Regions from separate parts of the Homo sapiens genome. Here regions 2, 3, 4 and 5 are each reported to be linked to region 1. Evidence: microRNA targets listed by miRTarBase, many of them from high-throughput screens and not tested one by one. Region 1 holds a microRNA gene; each other region holds the end of a gene's coding sequence.
Evidence for each region. The annotated mature microRNA hsa-miR-383-5p reads AGAUCAGAAGGUGAUUGUGGCU and lies in region 1 at 953-974, opposite strand. An mRNA with a match to its seed (bases 2 to 7 or 8) in the 3' UTR can be bound and repressed. Matches are read on the target gene's strand: a 7mer-m8 pairs with bases 2 to 8, a 7mer-A1 pairs with bases 2 to 7 and ends in A, and an 8mer does both.

Region 1 (3,000 bases):
AGCCCAAAGTAACAAACACCCTACCAACAATTGCCTGAAAATATTCTAGAATTAATTTTCACCTCAGTTGAACAATTTATTGACTTTTTTCCCTGCACGCCAGATGCCTATAGTCTCCCCTACAAACATCTTGTCTTTTCCATTTTTGTTCATATTTAGTTTTTGGCAACCACAGCTTGTATAATTACATTATGTTGGAGCAGGACCATATTAAGGAAACATTGCAAAGTACAAAAAATTTTCTTTGGCTCACCTCCCATCTGTAGTGTTTCATGGAGTAATAGCCTTTCTCTGCATCAAAGTCTTTCCTGGATTCCTGTGGTATTGTTCCCAGAATCTCCTCGTCTAAACTCTCCTGAAGCGTTAGCTCCTAAACACATATGTTACTATTTCTATGGGGCTTTTCCTTTACTAGGAATGGAAAACACTGTTGAGATGATCAGATATATACTGCTGATGAGGCAGCCACACTTACCAGCCAGAGGCCAGCTCTGCTTCTGAGGATACATAGAAAGTATATTCCAATAGCGGCCTTTGCATGTGTGCATTATAGCAGCATTCATATTTGAAGAAAGTCAAATTAAAGCATGCATATAAAACTTGTACTATTTGCAGTTTGAAGATTTTGCCCATGAATTTCAAATGTCTGCATGGAATCCCAAGTTATTTTCTCTTTATGGTATAAAAATGTTAAAGAGTGGGGAAGAGGAGGTAATGATCAAAATGCTCATGTGAGGAAACAACTAGGTATTTTATGAGAAAGACAAGCTTCCAAACACAGGTTAAACATGGCACTTTTCATCTCACCTGAAGCATGCTGGCCACTCCAGTCCACCAAATGCAGTTCCCTTGGGACCTACGCTGGATGGATACCCAAGGTCTCATGAGGTAAAGGCTAGGACACTTGCTCTTTCTGACCAGGCAGTGCTGTGGCTGATTAATATCCACCCAAAGCCACAATCACCTTCTGATCTGAGGAGCAGGTGACGGGGAGATTCTGAAGTCTCTTGATAAATTATGCAAACATAATCAAACAATACACATTGCAGGTTAAAAAAAAATTCAGTCACTGAAGTGGTTTGCTTTGTCCTTTAAAGAACTGAATCTAAATAGATTGTCATCAATCATTGGCAGTTCCTAGAATGACAACGCTGAGAAATTAGTATTACATGGGTACCATAGAAGAGCTATTTTCTTTCCTAGTGAAACGCTTGGGAAAGGAGAGAGGAAGGGAGAAAAATAAACAAGGCTTTTCTAACTACTGTTGGAATTTTCCTTTCTCTGTTCTTTCTTCAGATGAACCAGAAGACCAATTTAGTCCCAATATCCAATGCTTTCACATGACTACAGCTTATCCTAAGCCTTCCTTCCTCCTTGCCAATACAAAATACACACCTTTCAAGGATCTTTCAAGGCCTATATCAAAGGTCGAAATTTGCCTACTCCTAAGTCATTCATTTTGTAACGACATCAGTTTCTATGTGATTATATTATATATATATATATATATATATATATATATATATCCTTTTGTATATATATTCTAATTTTATATACTCTGTCTAAAGCTACAATATCTCCTTGCACAGAGTCACAAAATGTAAATTGAAATACATTATTGTTATTAGTTTGATTTTTGTGTTACCTCATCTTCACTATTTAGTAATCATCTTAAATGCAGTAACTTTTGACTTGTAAATGTTGGGCTTTTGACACAGAGTTGGTGTTAACAACATTATATGCAAAATGACTCACTTTACTATTTCATTCGCAATTCACAAAACAAAAAGTTAATTTGTATTCATTGAATAAGATAATACATAGACATATCAAAAATATATAATTTGTAGTTTATTTAGACTCAACATTGTTCCACAACATATCTAAAGCAGAAAGAAAAGATAAAAATATACACATTTATTTTTACAATAAATACTGTCAATAAGTTATCAACTAAATATTAAGGCACTTCTTAGATTAATAAAATTAATAAATTTCACATTGTGTAATATTGTTTTCATAATAGGAAGCCAGTGGTTTTCATTATTTTTCAATAGTCATCGTAGATATGATTATTGCAAATATAAGATATTTTGAATACATACAGTAATATAGTTTGGTGTTAAACAGTAGAGAGAAGAAGGATTTACTGGTCCTTCTGATTTCTTTTTTCACTTTTGTTGGATTATTTCAGGAATACCAGCAGGAATTAGTTTGCTATTATCATTTTATTTTCATAGAGAGGAAAGGAGAGAGTAGGTCAATTGGGATCAGTCTCCCAGGGCATATAAACCCGGCAGAGAGTGGCCCTCTTTAATCTCTGCTACCCTAGACATCAAAGGCTGCACTGCCACTATTCACAGAGATATGTCAGCATGTCCACAGGGGCCTGAACAATCATGCAGAGGTCCATGCTATGGCCTCTCTTGGGAAATCCCGCTCCCGACTTTATCTGGTATGCTCTCCCACCTCCCTCAAGATCTAACTTTGATGCAACTTCCTAGGCATCTCCATTATTTTATTTATTTATTTATTTATTTAGAGACGGAGTCTTGCTCTGTCACCCAACTGGAGTACAGTGGCACAATCTTGGCTCACTGCAACCTCTGCCTCCTGGGCTCAAGCGATTCTCATGCCTTAGTCTCCTGAGTAGCTGGGAATAAGGGATGCCAACATGTCCACCTAACTTTCGTATTTTTAGTTGAGACGGAATTTCACCATGTTGGCCAGGCTGGTTTTGAACTCCTGACCTCAAGTGATCCGCCTGCTTTGGCCTCACAAAGTGCTGGGATTTCAGGCGTGAGCCACTGTCCCCAGCCGGCATCTCCATTCTTGATCTGGGTATCAAGTCTCTGTACTTCGTGCTCACTATATACCTAGCCCATTCTGATTTATGCTTGCTATTCCCATGTCAAAACATTGCCCCATTTTACCCTCAACAGTGTCCATACTTGCAGGATAGATTATAGTCATGGGGTTCAGCTTAAAATCTGCCTTGAC
Region 2 (3,183 bases), not on the chromosome of region 1:
AGAGAGGGAATCCTGTAGGAAGGGAGGTAATCAGTACATATTTTCCAGGCCAAATAGGGCAATCTTTTTCCTTTCCTTTCCTTTTTCCTTTCCCCTTTCCTTTCCTTTCTTTTTTTTCTTTCCTTCCTTTCTTTATCAGATAGGGTCTCACTAAATAGGACAATTTCTGAAAGCATTTACCAAAGTTGATTTTATGTGTAGGTCTTTATAAGCTTTCTTAGCTTTCCTGCTTAGCAACAAAGAAGCCTGCCCCATTTTTTCTTAGCAAGTCCGGTACCTGGGGCAAAGCTCCCTGCCATGTCTTAGCAGACCTCAGGACCCAGAACTGTCTTGGGCCTCAGCAACCCTCTTCCCTTTACTGTGAGACTCAAGCTCAGGGCTCCCACTTGCGGACCCTTCTGTCCTGCTGCAGGAGGATTTTCAGGCCCTGTGAGAATGAGGGAAGCCAGTTTGGCTCTGGGAGAGGGCATCTCAGCTGAGCTAGCTTGGGAACCCAAGCTTTGATTTGGCCTCAGTCTGACTATCTAAGAAAAGGTACGGTGCTGGGCTCAGCTGCCTCCTTGGCTTGGAGAAGGGCTAATGCTGACCAATCCATCCAGCTCAGGCCCCCAAATACCAACAAGACTCTGTACTCTGAAGACAATTGTTTCCTTGCTTCTCTTTTGAGACTGGGGAGGCAGGGTCGTGAGCATTGGCACAGATCTCAGTTCCCGGGAAAGTGCCCTTCAGACTCAGCCCAGGTGTCAAGCTTGCTTTACTCCCAGCCCTGAATCTCAATAGGCTGGGAGTGGACAAAGTCAGCCCTTATCCAAGAAGATGACCATTCCAGGGCTTGGGCCTCCATTTACTAATCTGTAAAACATTAAAAACCCCTGCCGCCACCCACCCCTCACAGGGTGGCTATTAGGAGGATGTGCTAAGAAAATGGGTGTGAGGGCTTTCCTCACACTGGTCTGGGCACCTTCTTCACTGTTCTCACTATCCATTTCCAAATGCACTTCTAATCCAAGTTTATCCATTTTGGGGAACAAATCACTCAGTTCTACCAAAGAGAGATGGGTCTTCCAAGTCATCGTAAAGTTTAGGACCCTCTATTGGAATCCCTGATGTAAATGCAGATTCCTGGGGCCCTGGCCCGGATGCACTGAGAATCTCCAGGAGGGCCCATGTGATCTGATTACACACGCTCAAGTGCAAGAGCCACTGTTTTAGTCTTGAGCAAACAAGGCCTGTCTGGGACCAGGAAGAGAAACAAGGGAGATAAAAACTCTCCAAATGCCAGTTGGTGTGGGTGGATGTAATTCCAGGGAAGAAGGGGGAAAGGCCCTGGGCTTCATCTGGCCCAACTCCAATTTGCCAATTTTTCTGACAAGGAACTTAGGGCCCAGAATGCACAATGCATCTTTTGTTTTTAGAGACAGGGTCTTGCTGTCACCCAGGCTGCAGCCTTGAACTCCTGGACTCAAGCAATCCTCTGGCTTCAGCATCCCAAGTGGCTGGGACAACAGGTCACAGAGGACGTCTGGGTGACCCAAGGTATCGTTAAGGTAGGCCTGCTATTTCCTTGCTCTCTAAGCCCTTAGCACTCCTTCCCTCACCTGTGTGTGTGCAAGGAGTTCTGCACCTGCCTGGTCCAGACTTCCTTCCAGTGGCAGCTCATGCCCCTCTTGGTTCCTTGTCCAGTGAGAGGCATGAGCTAAGTAGCATTTTTCAAACTCCCCCTCTTAGTCTTTTTAAATCCAGAGATAAGATTTGTAATTTTCATGATGGTAGAACAACTGATTTTTTTCTCCCAGAAAGAAAAAAGGTATTTTCTAGTTCTTTCACTGTTTATTAAAGACCTTGGGCTCAGTGGGCCCTCCTGTCTGGGCCTTCTAACCGGGGCAGCCAGGTGAGCTCTCCCTCTGGAGACTCTGGCTCGGTGGGAGGTCTGACTCACCCCCTACCTTCAGGGGTTTCCAGTGTGTTCTCCTAGTAGCTTCAGCCAGCACAGGGCCAAGGGTTCTTGGCACAGATGGCACACGGTACACATACCTCTGTCACCAGGCTGGCAGGCAGTCCCGGAAAGGGATGGAGGAACACACAGGTGGACCCCAGGGCCTGATGAGACCTGCCTTTCACTAGCACCCATCTCCCTCCTTTTCACTTCATGGTACTGATGAGAGACTCAACCAACTGTTTTAACAAACATGTTTATTAGAAAAGTAAAAAATATTGCATAGGTCTTAATACTTGAACATCAAGTGTATTCATGAACAGTGAGTATCTTATCTTCATGTAAACAGTTCTAGATGGAAGACCCAGATGGCACTCCTCCCGGGGAGGGGTTCCAGCCCCCACCCTCTCAGCCCCTCCCCTGCCAGCTCAACTCTGCAGTACACGATGGGGGAAGGCTTAAACGCAGCTGCCAGGTGTAATTTTTCAAGTGTCAAAGATCCCAAGTGATCCCTGACACCCACCCCTTCCTACTCTTACATTCATGCGTCTGTAAGATAGCTGCCTACAACAGGTCAGTAGTGATGCTCCGATCAGAAAAACAAGATACAAAACAAACAACAAACACACTTGGTCCCTTCAGACCAGTAAGATACACAAACCACCTCCACGACCTCCGACCTCCCCCCTCCCTCCGGCTGCTCTGAGGAGCACGTGCCTCTTCCTTCACCCTGGGCCGGGCTGGGGCGGGAGCAGCCCAGCTGCTCTCTGGATGTCACACCACTGTTAACTGTCAGTAACAAAAATAATAAGGTACATGCTACACACACATCCAGCTGGAAGCCTTGTTGGCCCCTAAGCCTTTGTTTCATGCTACAGTACTGAGGGGTATGTGTCCCCAATGCACAGCCACCCGCACACAACTCAATGAGCTTCCTGGGAAACACTATTCCCCCACCTCCACCTTAGGTGGCTGCCTCAGTTTTCCAACCACAGGAATCAGTCCCTCAGCTCCTGCCTCTAGTCTCCACCCCAAAAGTTCAGTCGTCTCTGTCTTGGAGGGCACTGTCGGCCCCCTCAGGTTGAAGTTCAACACTCCTCAATGAGCAGCTGTTCCGAGCTGTACAGCTTCTTCTTGATGACTCGGAAGCCAGTGCTCAGCGTCAGGGACTGGCTGAAGCCAGGGAGGAAGGGAGAGTTGGCGGAGCTAAACAGCCCCTGGATCTTGGGCCAGAGTCGTGAGTCCAG
Region 3 (3,206 bases), not on the chromosome of region 1:
GGTTCAAGCGATTCTCCTGCCTTCCGAGTAGCTGGGATAACAGGCGCCAGTAACCACACCCAGCTAATTTTTGTATTTTTAGTAGAGATGGGGTTTCTTCATGTTGGCCAGGCTGGTCTCGAACTTCTGACCTCAGGTGATCCAACTGCTTCGGCCTCCCAAGGTGCTGGGATTACAGGCGTGAGCCACCACGCCCAGCTTTAATTTCTGGTTTAAGAGTGGAGGCCAGGCGCGGAAATGGGGAAATGGAGTTTCCCTATGTTGCTTAGGGTAGTTTTGAACTCCTGGGTTCAAGTGATCGTCCCATGTGGGCCTCCCAAAGTGCTGGGATTACAGGCGTGAGCCAACATGCCCAGCTTTAATTTCTGGTTTAAGAAGAGTGGAGGCCAGGCGCGGAAATGGGGAAATGGAGCTTCCCTATGTTGCTTAGGGTAGTTTTGAACTCCTGGGTTCAAGTGATCCTCCCATGTTGGCGTCCCAAAGTGCTCGGATTACTGGCTTGAGCCACCATGCCTGGCCAGAGCCACTTTGGGAAGAGCAGTCTATACTTACCCTTTGTTTTTTTGTGACGGAATTTTGCCCTGTCACTCAGGCTGGAGTGCAGTGGCATGATCTCGGCCCACTGCAACCTGCACCTCCTGGGTTTAAGGGATTCTCCCGCCTCAGCCTCCGGAGTAGCTGGGTTATAGGCACCCAGCTAATGTTTGTATTTTTAGTAGAGACGGGGTTTTGTCATGTTGGCCAGGCTGGTCTCCAACTCCTGACCTCAGGTGATCCACCCACCTCGCCTTCCCAAAGTGATGGGATTACAGGCATGACCCAATATGCCTGGCTTTTTTTTTTTTTTTTTTTTTTTGAGACAGGGTCTTGCTCTGTTGCTCCGGCTGGATTGCAGTGGTACAATCATAGCTGTGAGTTTGAACTCCCAGGCTCAAGTGATCCTCTCGCCTCAGCCTCCCAGGTAGCTGGAACTAAAGGCATGTGCCACCATGCCTAATATTTTTTGTATTTTTTGTACAGACCTGGTCTCCCTATGTTGCTCAGGCTGGTCTCAAACTCCTGGGCTCAAGTAGTCTTCCCACCTCGGCCTCCCAAAAGTGCTGGGATTACAGACATGAGCCACTGATACCCAACACTAACCTGGCTAAGGTCACCCAGGCTGTAGAGAGGTAGAGCTGGGACAATGGCCTTTATCTGACTCCAGCATCCTCAGGATTTCCTCCCTTATCTGTAGAATGTGGATAAGATGACCAAGAACACATCCTAGAGGGCACGATAGCCAGGATAGGACTGTTCTAGGAACACACACGAGGCGTGTTAAAGAAGACTCAGAAAGATGAAAACCAGGAAAGAGCCCTGTGGCCGAGATCTACTCTGTATCCTAGAGTATTTTATGTACTTTTTGAAGCATTTTTTCACCAGTACTTAATAGCAACTGTTAGATCAAGCATTAGCTCCAGAGGAGTAAAAATCAGATTCCACAGATTTGTACTAATGTATCTAACACAGGTGGTAATGGCTTTTAAAAAAAAAAAAATGAAAAACAGTCCAGGCCGGGCGCGGTGGCTCACGCCTGTAATCCCAGCGCTTTGGGAGGCCGTGGCGGGCAGATCACGAGGTCAGGAGTTCCAGACCAGCCTGGCCAACATGGTGAAACCAAGTCTCTACTAAAAATACAAAAAAATTAGCCAGGCATGGTGGCAGGTGCCTGGAATCCCAGCTACTCAGAAGACTGAGGCAGAAGAATCCCTTGAACCCAGGAGGCAGAGATTGCAGTAAGCCAAGACTGCACCACTGCATTCTAGCCCAGGCAACGGAGCGAGACTCCGTCTCAAAAAAGTCCAAACACACTAGGGGTTAAATAAGCTGCTTCTCTTTCCACTGTTTATTATTAATGTACAAAATATACAAAACCAAAAAAAAAAATACTCATCCTCAAATCCATTTTGGCTCTAACCCAAGACCCTGCACAAAACCCAACCAATCCACTGTTTTCATAGAAAACAACTGATGCCAAAGTGAAGGAGAGAACTGGGAAAGGGCAAAATCATCTTGTTGAATCCACCCAGGAAGGCGCCTGGTGGGGATTCAGAGGTGGTTGACAGGGTGAAGTACCTGGAAGCCTCCTTCACGCTGGCAAGGTTCCAGGTGGGAGCAGGGAGTGAGCTGACTCCCAAAGGCAGTGCATGTAGTGTGACTTTCAGGCCCAGCACGCCGGGCCCAAGTTGATGAGAAGCTGGTCTCACTGAAGTATTTTATCAAGTCTCCAGACTGGCTATAGTTGGCAAAGGCAGACCAGCACCACCGGTCTCACCTCTGCCAGCTAAAACTTGCACCGGATGCAGATACGAGTTCGCCATCATCGAACCTAGCAGACCCAGGACGCAGACTGGGTGTTCACAGAAAGTTGAAGGTCCCACTTGAGAAAGGACTAAGAATGGTGAGCCCACGCTGGGGGAGGGGTGGGGATGATGTGTGTTCCAGAACTCAAATCCAGCTGATTGAGCCCTCTCAGTGCAGTGGGATATACAATACCCCTTTCAGCATCTCCCCACCCCATGAGGAATAATGAACTTAGCTGGGATGATTTCTTAAGTGCAGCTGATCCTGTGTCAGAGTTCTGTGTGCATGTGGGGACCCGCAATAGAAGGGTAGGGGTGTTCGCCAGGATAACCAGCTTTAGGTTCTCAAGCATTAAGGGTAATACTGGAAAGGGGTTTGGGGTACAGGGCGAATCTTCTCAAAAAGTGAAGCCAACTGGGTCTCCTCTTCAGCAGTCCAGGAACGTTTCCAGTCTCTCTCCTCCCCAGACTGGAGGAAAATATGTACATCAATGCGCACCAGTGATCAGAAAACCCCCAGGAACCCAAGCAAGTGGGAACTGAGGGGGCCGGCTCCTCATCAGCTGGGGAAAAGGGAAAATGGGCCTCACAGAAGCCATAACAGGGTGGAAAGAGCGAGGCTGCAGTCCACAGGGGTTGTGTGAACAGGGCAGGCAAATGGTCCCTAGGGCAGGGGGGGCCCATTGACACCCGGGTGGTAGAAGGCACAGTTGTTCTCATAGCGGCAGTTGCCCTTCATCATGAAATGTCGGCAGACAGGGCGGTTTGACATGTCTGTGGGAACGATGGCAAAACAGTTAGACAGGAAATAGCTGAGGGCAATGCCACCCTCACCACCCCTTGTCCATGACATCCTGAGAACTG
Region 4 (3,000 bases), not on the chromosome of region 1:
GTGCCCAGTCATTTAATATTCTAAACACAATCTAAGTCTGATTATAAAATCAGAGTTAGAAAGGGTAATAAAAGCGTATTGGTTCATTCCTATATCTATAGGAAAGGTGTCAAAACTTCACAAGTTTCCAGATATGAGGATTTAAGAACCTCCCTAGTAACTCAATAAATTATACTGTCAGAAGAAAAATCCCAAATATCCAACTTTGAGTCCTATTTGATTTTCACTAACATAGATAGTAACCATTGAGATGCCTGATAAGTTATTTAATAATCTTTCAACCTCTTCTTTTTATATCCTTTAAATGTGTGTGTGTGCACGTGTGTGTGTGTGTGTGTGTATGTGTGTGTGTAGATCATCAGAAAACTAAAGGTTTGCAGAGAGAAAATGTGAAAATAATTAAAACACAAGAAAAAATCTCACATCATCTTTGCAGGTTTTTTGAGGCAAAGAATGTTCTAAAATCTACTGGAAGCACTGATTTTTGTCACTATTGGTTCTTTTCTTAATCTTCCCCAAGTTTACAATTTTCAACATCAACAATAGCCACAATATCAACACATTTGTGTGATAATAATTTAATAAACATTCAAATATCATCAGTCCTTCGGGATTCACATGCACCTGGAAAACCAGTATGCTCCAAATCCCTTGGAACATTAACAACACGAAGGAGAAAAAAAATTAATTAATTTTATTAATCAAACTCTGATAGTTAATAGTTAAGAAGTTATTCTGCACGCCCAGTCAAATATGACTTAAGGAACTTTACAATGGATGGGAATAATGTATATTCTGAAAACGCTACTTAACCTGCTGGGCACATGAAAAGAAACTTTCTCAATATTCAAAGGAAATCCTCACCAATGAAATTATGCAATTACCACAGTTTATGTTACAAAATTACAGTTTAATCATAAATTAAATATCAAGTTATACATTACAAAATCTATGTCTAAGTTAATCAATAGGAGATATTGACTCCCCCCCAACCCCAACCGCCCCCATTAAACATCAATTGTCTCTTGGTTTAGTGTTATACTGAAACAAGGTATTTTCTCAGTTTTGCTATGGAAGAAAATCAAGTTGGTGATGTTTCTGTACATTTATAAAATGTGCACATACAAGATAATGGCCAGTTAAGAGGATAAAAGAAGGAAATAACAGACAACAGGAGAAAACTAATGTTTTCTATGAATAGTACTGTTTCTTTGCTTAGAAGAATATATTTTATTTCATATATGAGATTTTGATGGTTTTTGTTCTGTGTGTGTTATTGGTATTTCTTCTTGACTGCAAGAAGCAGTCATGTGCCTTATTTCTCCCTCTGCATTTTTCCTTAAAATTCTGTTTGATGTAGATTTATAATTACATTTCTTGAAAAGTTCCTTCCTGATATTCTTGTTGTTATTAGTGGTTTTCTTCAGTAAGTTGAGCTAGAATAACAAAAATCCCTTAGTCTTATAGATTTAGTATGTGGTTTTATCTACAGTTACATGTATTTGTTATTTTTACTGAACACCCTTTGGTAACAGCCTATTGAGCTGTCAAATCAACATTTAAATCTTCCTGAGTTTCTCTACAAAATAGTAGTTTACCGTCGATATTTTAAGTGACTCGTGCTTTGGATGCATCCACCTCCTTTTAATTTTCTAGGCTGTTACATACAAATTCCCAGAAGTAAAGACCCAAGTAATAATGGACTACAGGCTTAAAATGTCAGATACAGTTTTATTTCTGATGTACTTTACACTAAACTATTAAAGTAAAAAGGGGCCCTTTTTAACAAATAGTTGCTTAATTAGGGCAGTTATTGCACTTCTGTGTCTCGAACTCTACTAAAGAGTAGAGAAATAGGTTGTAGATCTAGATCTGTACAGTTTATACATATTCTTTATTGAAAATGTATATACAAATTTTATCAACAATATAGTATTGGAATAAGGTAGAAAACATGACAGCAGAGAGACACAAACAAGCAGTATTTACACTACCTACTGTGTATTTTGAAGGGAGACTCACTAACAACAACAAAAAAACTGAAAACCACAAACAAAAATCAAAAAGAAAGCCCCAAAAAAGGCTAGAGTACGTATACCTTTTAACATTATCTGAACAAAAGTTTAGGTAAACTAAAGGTAAACTTAGAAAATAAGATATTTCTAGGCTTTCCATTTGCTACATACTGGTTCCACACAATCAGCATGGAAACAAATCAGTAATATTGCACATGATGATAAAAACAACAAAAAATACTGTACATCAGAAATAGTACGCTCTGTCATGATAAGCCTTACTGTACAAGGGGATGCAAATTGTTAAATTCCTTTTCTTTTTAAATACACATTCTGAATTAAACAAATTGCAATTTTTTGGTTAACTATTGACTAAGGGTCTAGCTGTAGATTTATTCTGGTATCTGTTTCTATTTACATAGTTATTTACAAATCTGATAATCAGAATACTCATTGGAATTGTATCTTAAATTTTGACTATATACATCTTTTCTGAAAATTTGAAGTAACTATTTTAGCTTTACAAGGGATGTGTTTCCATAATGGGGGAATCACCTCTGGACGGTCTGGCCTGTTGGCGTGGAGCGAAGGTTGTCAAAGGAATGACTTTAATTGAATCATCACTGGGATGAAGTCTTTCAGACATGGTGTAAAACTGAGATGTTGCACTACCTTGCACTCCCTGATCAACAGAGCATAGTCCATTAGCACCTTGCACCCAACCTTGCTGCAAACTGACTGATGATTGGGCCTGACTACGATGGAGGGCAATAACCTGTGGCAGAGAAGAGCTGTGGCTGATTGCAGCAGCCTGTGCTAAAGGAGGGCTGTAGCAGAGGGCTGAGGCCTGTGCTGATGGTGGGCTGTGGTGAAGTGCAGTACCCTGCACTAGAGGAGGACTGTGGTGGAGAGCAGACACCTGTATCGGTGGTGGGCTGTGGCACAATGCGATGGTCTGTGTCACTGGAGGGCTGTGGCAGAGAAC
Region 5 (3,191 bases), not on the chromosome of region 1:
CTCCTGGAGCGACACGTGGCCCTGCACAGTGCCAGCAATGGGACCCCCCCTGCAGGCACACCCCCAGGTGCCCGCGCTGGCCCCCCAGGCGTGGTGGCCTGCACGGAGGGGACCACTTACGTCTGCTCCGTCTGCCCAGCAAAGTTTGACCAAATCGAGCAGTTCAACGACCACATGAGGATGCATGTGTCTGACGGATAAGTAGTATCTTTCTCTCTTTCTTATGAACAAAACAAAACAACAACAAAAAACAAACAAACAAAAAAGCTATGGCACTAGAATTTAAGAAATGTTTTGGTTTCATTTTTACTTTCTGTTTTTGTTTTTGTTTCGTTTCATTTTGTACTACATGAAGAACTGTTTTTTGCCTGCTGGTACATTACATTTCCGGAGGCTTGGGTGAATAATAGTTTTCCCAGTCTCCCTCGGATGGTGGCCTTAAGGCCTGGTAGTGCTTCAAGAGGTCCACTGGTTGGATCTCTAGCTACTGGCCTCTAAATACAACCCTTCTTTACAAAAAAATCTTTTAAAAAAAAGTAAAAAAAAAAAAAAAATTTCCACTTGTGAAGAGCACTACAAAAAATATATAACAAAATCTAAAAGGCCTACTGTCTTTAAGTACACCGCTTGCAGTGTTTCAGTGGACATTTTCACAATTCTGGCCGCTTGGACTTCACAGTAACCAGTTAAAACTGTGGAATATCACTTCTGGTTGAAAACCCAGAGGAAAGGCCCTGCTGTTTTCCACCTACCACGTTGTCTGATTTCATAAAAGGGCTGTGGGGGTGGGAAGGGCAGTGGGTTCGGTGGTGTGGGAAAGAAAGACGAATGGCAGGCTTCTTCCCCAGATTCTGCCCGGGTCCACACACCCTGGCCCACCTTCTCCATATCCCCCTCTTGCAGCAGAAGCCAGGAAGACTTGGACAAGCAACAAGCAACAGTGGCTATCGTATTTATTCAGTGTCTTCGCTGAGCCACAGCCTCAGCACAATCAAGAGGGACTTTCATGAAAGGCAGGAATGCAGATAAAACAAAGATATCAGAAATTTGCACCTATGTTTCTAGGTACAAGAGAAGGATTATTTCCAACAATCTTTGCAAAAAAAAAAAAAGTGTCAGGATATATTCTTGTGGAAGAGAAAAAGAAAAAGAAATGGAGGGTGGGGGGAACAATAAAAAGTTCTTGAGGCTTTTTTAATTCAAAATTTTATAGAGGGGCAAAAGTGACGTTTACCAGATAGAATGCTGATTTTTTTAATATATTTACAACAGTATTTGTGTAAAAAAAAAAACAAAAAAAGTGAAATTGTTAAAAGTAATTTTTTTCATTTTGGTTTTGCATACACTGCCACCAATTCCTTCTCTTTTATTTTATTTCACACACATATATATATTTTTTGGTAAGTCAAGACTGTTAAGGTTAGCGATACTGCTTCCAGATAGAAAGAATAAAAGGCAACTAAAGTTATATTTGAAAGAGAGGAAGGATATTTTCTTCATATTTTTTTTAATTTTTCTTAATTTTTATTATTTTAAGTATTGCCTGGGTTGATGAGGGCCTCTGTGGCCAGCCCATCCCTGCTGTAATTTGAATTGCTGCTTTGTATTTTGATATGTAGTTCTTTGACTTTAGCAAGCTTAAGTTGCCCCACTGAATAATTTTTTCAACTGATTCATCTAGAATTCTGTTCTTTTTCATGGAAGAGACTTTATCTTTCAGAAAGAGATTGCTTGCTTCTCCAAAATTTCATTGAGATCTTACAATTCTAGAATTTCTATTGACTTTACTTTTTTTCTTAGTGAAACACTAATAGTCTAGAAGTCTTGATAAATGGGGTCTTTTCTTTTGTGATCAGCCAGGAAGAGGAGTTCACAAAACTCTGCCATAGCTCCTCACCCTTCCCAACTACAAAGAGCATCATTATGAGAAGCCTGTTATAGATCAAGATGCATTGATGCCAAAATTACTTTTTTCCTTCCAAATATCACCTTCTGACTGTTTCCACCATGGTTAAGAGGGCTGAATAAGATGATCATTCTTTAGATGACGAATTAACCCTTGCTTCTTCGAAAGGTTTTAGGGAAATTAACAAAAAAATTCCCAGATGCCAACAGCCACCATTCAAAAGACCACCAATCTATTGCATCATACCAGATGCCACTCTCTCTTCCTAGTAGGGATTTCTCTCCTCGGTCCTGATCAAGGTGTTATAATAGAGACATTTTCATTATAGACAGTGTCCTGAAGGGATTCCAGCTCAAATATAGGAATTCTTAAACCTAGCTGAAACTCCCAAAGTGATTTCATTGCTGGGCATATTTTAACATACTTAGGGGAAAGCAAATCTTTAAACAAAGCAAAACACCAAACTACAGTTTTAAAAAGAAGAAAGGAGAGCGTATTTTAGTTTCAAAATTACATTACATTTTAATTTAATTTTCCTTCTAATTTTCCTGTCAGCATTTTATTTACAAAAACTGTGCAGCAAACGAGGGAAAATCTTCCAACACAAACAACTCTGTAATGACTAAATTGGTTTTATTCATATATTTTAGACATTTGGTTAACTTGGATCTTTTTCATAAGTTCTTTGTGATGCTTTGTAAGGTTAGTGTAACTGAAGTGTTTGTGAGTTTGATTTGGTCCCACAGTGCTTAATTCAGTGGATATTTTGCTAGAAGTTTTAATGTAAACTTGGGTGGTTAACTGACTATTAAGTGTAACCTATTGTGATTTCTAAGAGGAGTCCTGCCAAGAACTGTATGTCCAAAACTGATCTGTTTTAACAGTTAGTGAGGAACAGCTTCCGAGATAAAGTAAGTTCATTTTTCTATTGCTAATTTTGCTTTTTAAAATAGCAGTGTTGTAAGACTAATATTTCCACTTACCACCAATAGAGGGAGCATTAATTAACTATGTCATGGAATTGTTTTGATATTTTGGAAAACAAGTGATTCCACCCATAAAATGAAAAGAGAAGATTGACCTTAAGAAAAAAACTCTTAAAGCTAGGAGACAATGACATGAAATCACTCAATACATGTTACAAATGAAAGAAGGCCAAAAGCCACTTTAAAATATTTTAAACTGTTTCACAGTAGATTTGAAAGTGTCTTTGTTCAAATTTAGCAAAGTAGGAAGAATTTTCACTAATACCGCCTGAAAAGTTGATCTTAGGTGCCATTATGGG

Region 2: the mRNA of DDIT4 is a reported target of hsa-miR-383-5p. Seed matches in the 3' UTR shown: 7mer-m8 at 2,527-2,533.
Region 3: the mRNA of PPP1R10 is a reported target of hsa-miR-383-5p. Seed matches in the 3' UTR shown: 8mer at 2,845-2,852.
Region 4: miRTarBase lists PCDH11Y as a target of hsa-miR-383-5p. The part of its 3' UTR that is shown has no 7-base or 8-base seed match.
Region 5: miRTarBase lists ZBTB20 as a target of hsa-miR-383-5p. Seed matches in the 3' UTR shown: 7mer-A1 at 2,197-2,203.

The regions. Positions count from the first base shown.
Region 1 is chr8:14,852,531-14,855,530 of GRCh38, forward strand. It overlaps MIR383 (microRNA 383), which reads right to left and starts at 980; the gene lies at 908-980. The region is part of intron 1 of SGCZ (sarcoglycan zeta); the gene reads right to left.
Region 2 is chr10:72,275,030-72,278,212 of GRCh38, reverse strand. It overlaps DDIT4 (DNA damage inducible transcript 4), which reads right to left. Exons shown (of 3, transcript NM_019058.4): 3 at 2,177-3,183. The coding sequence ends at 3,025. Among named protein-coding and RNA genes, the nearest start is that of DDIT4, 2.7 kb to the right of the region's middle. RefSeq lists an enhancer at 2,123-2,646.
Region 3 is chr6:30,598,543-30,601,748 of GRCh38, forward strand. PPP1R10 (protein phosphatase 1 regulatory subunit 10) reads right to left here. Exons shown (of 20, transcript NM_002714.4): 20 at 1,871-3,116. The coding sequence ends at 3,007. Among named protein-coding and RNA genes, the nearest start is that of MIR877, 16 kb to the left of the region's middle.
Region 4 is chrY:5,737,478-5,740,477 of GRCh38, reverse strand. It overlaps PCDH11Y (protocadherin 11 Y-linked), which reads right to left. Exons shown (of 6, transcript NM_001395587.1): 6 at 1-3,000. The coding sequence ends at 2,536. Among named protein-coding and RNA genes, the nearest start is that of TTTY23B, 500 kb to the left of the region's middle.
Region 5 is chr3:114,336,015-114,339,205 of GRCh38, reverse strand. It overlaps ZBTB20 (zinc finger and BTB domain containing 20), which reads left to right. Exons shown (of 12, transcript NM_001348800.3): 12 at 1-3,191. The coding sequence ends at 201. Among named protein-coding and RNA genes, the nearest start is that of ZBTB20-AS1, 14 kb to the left of the region's middle.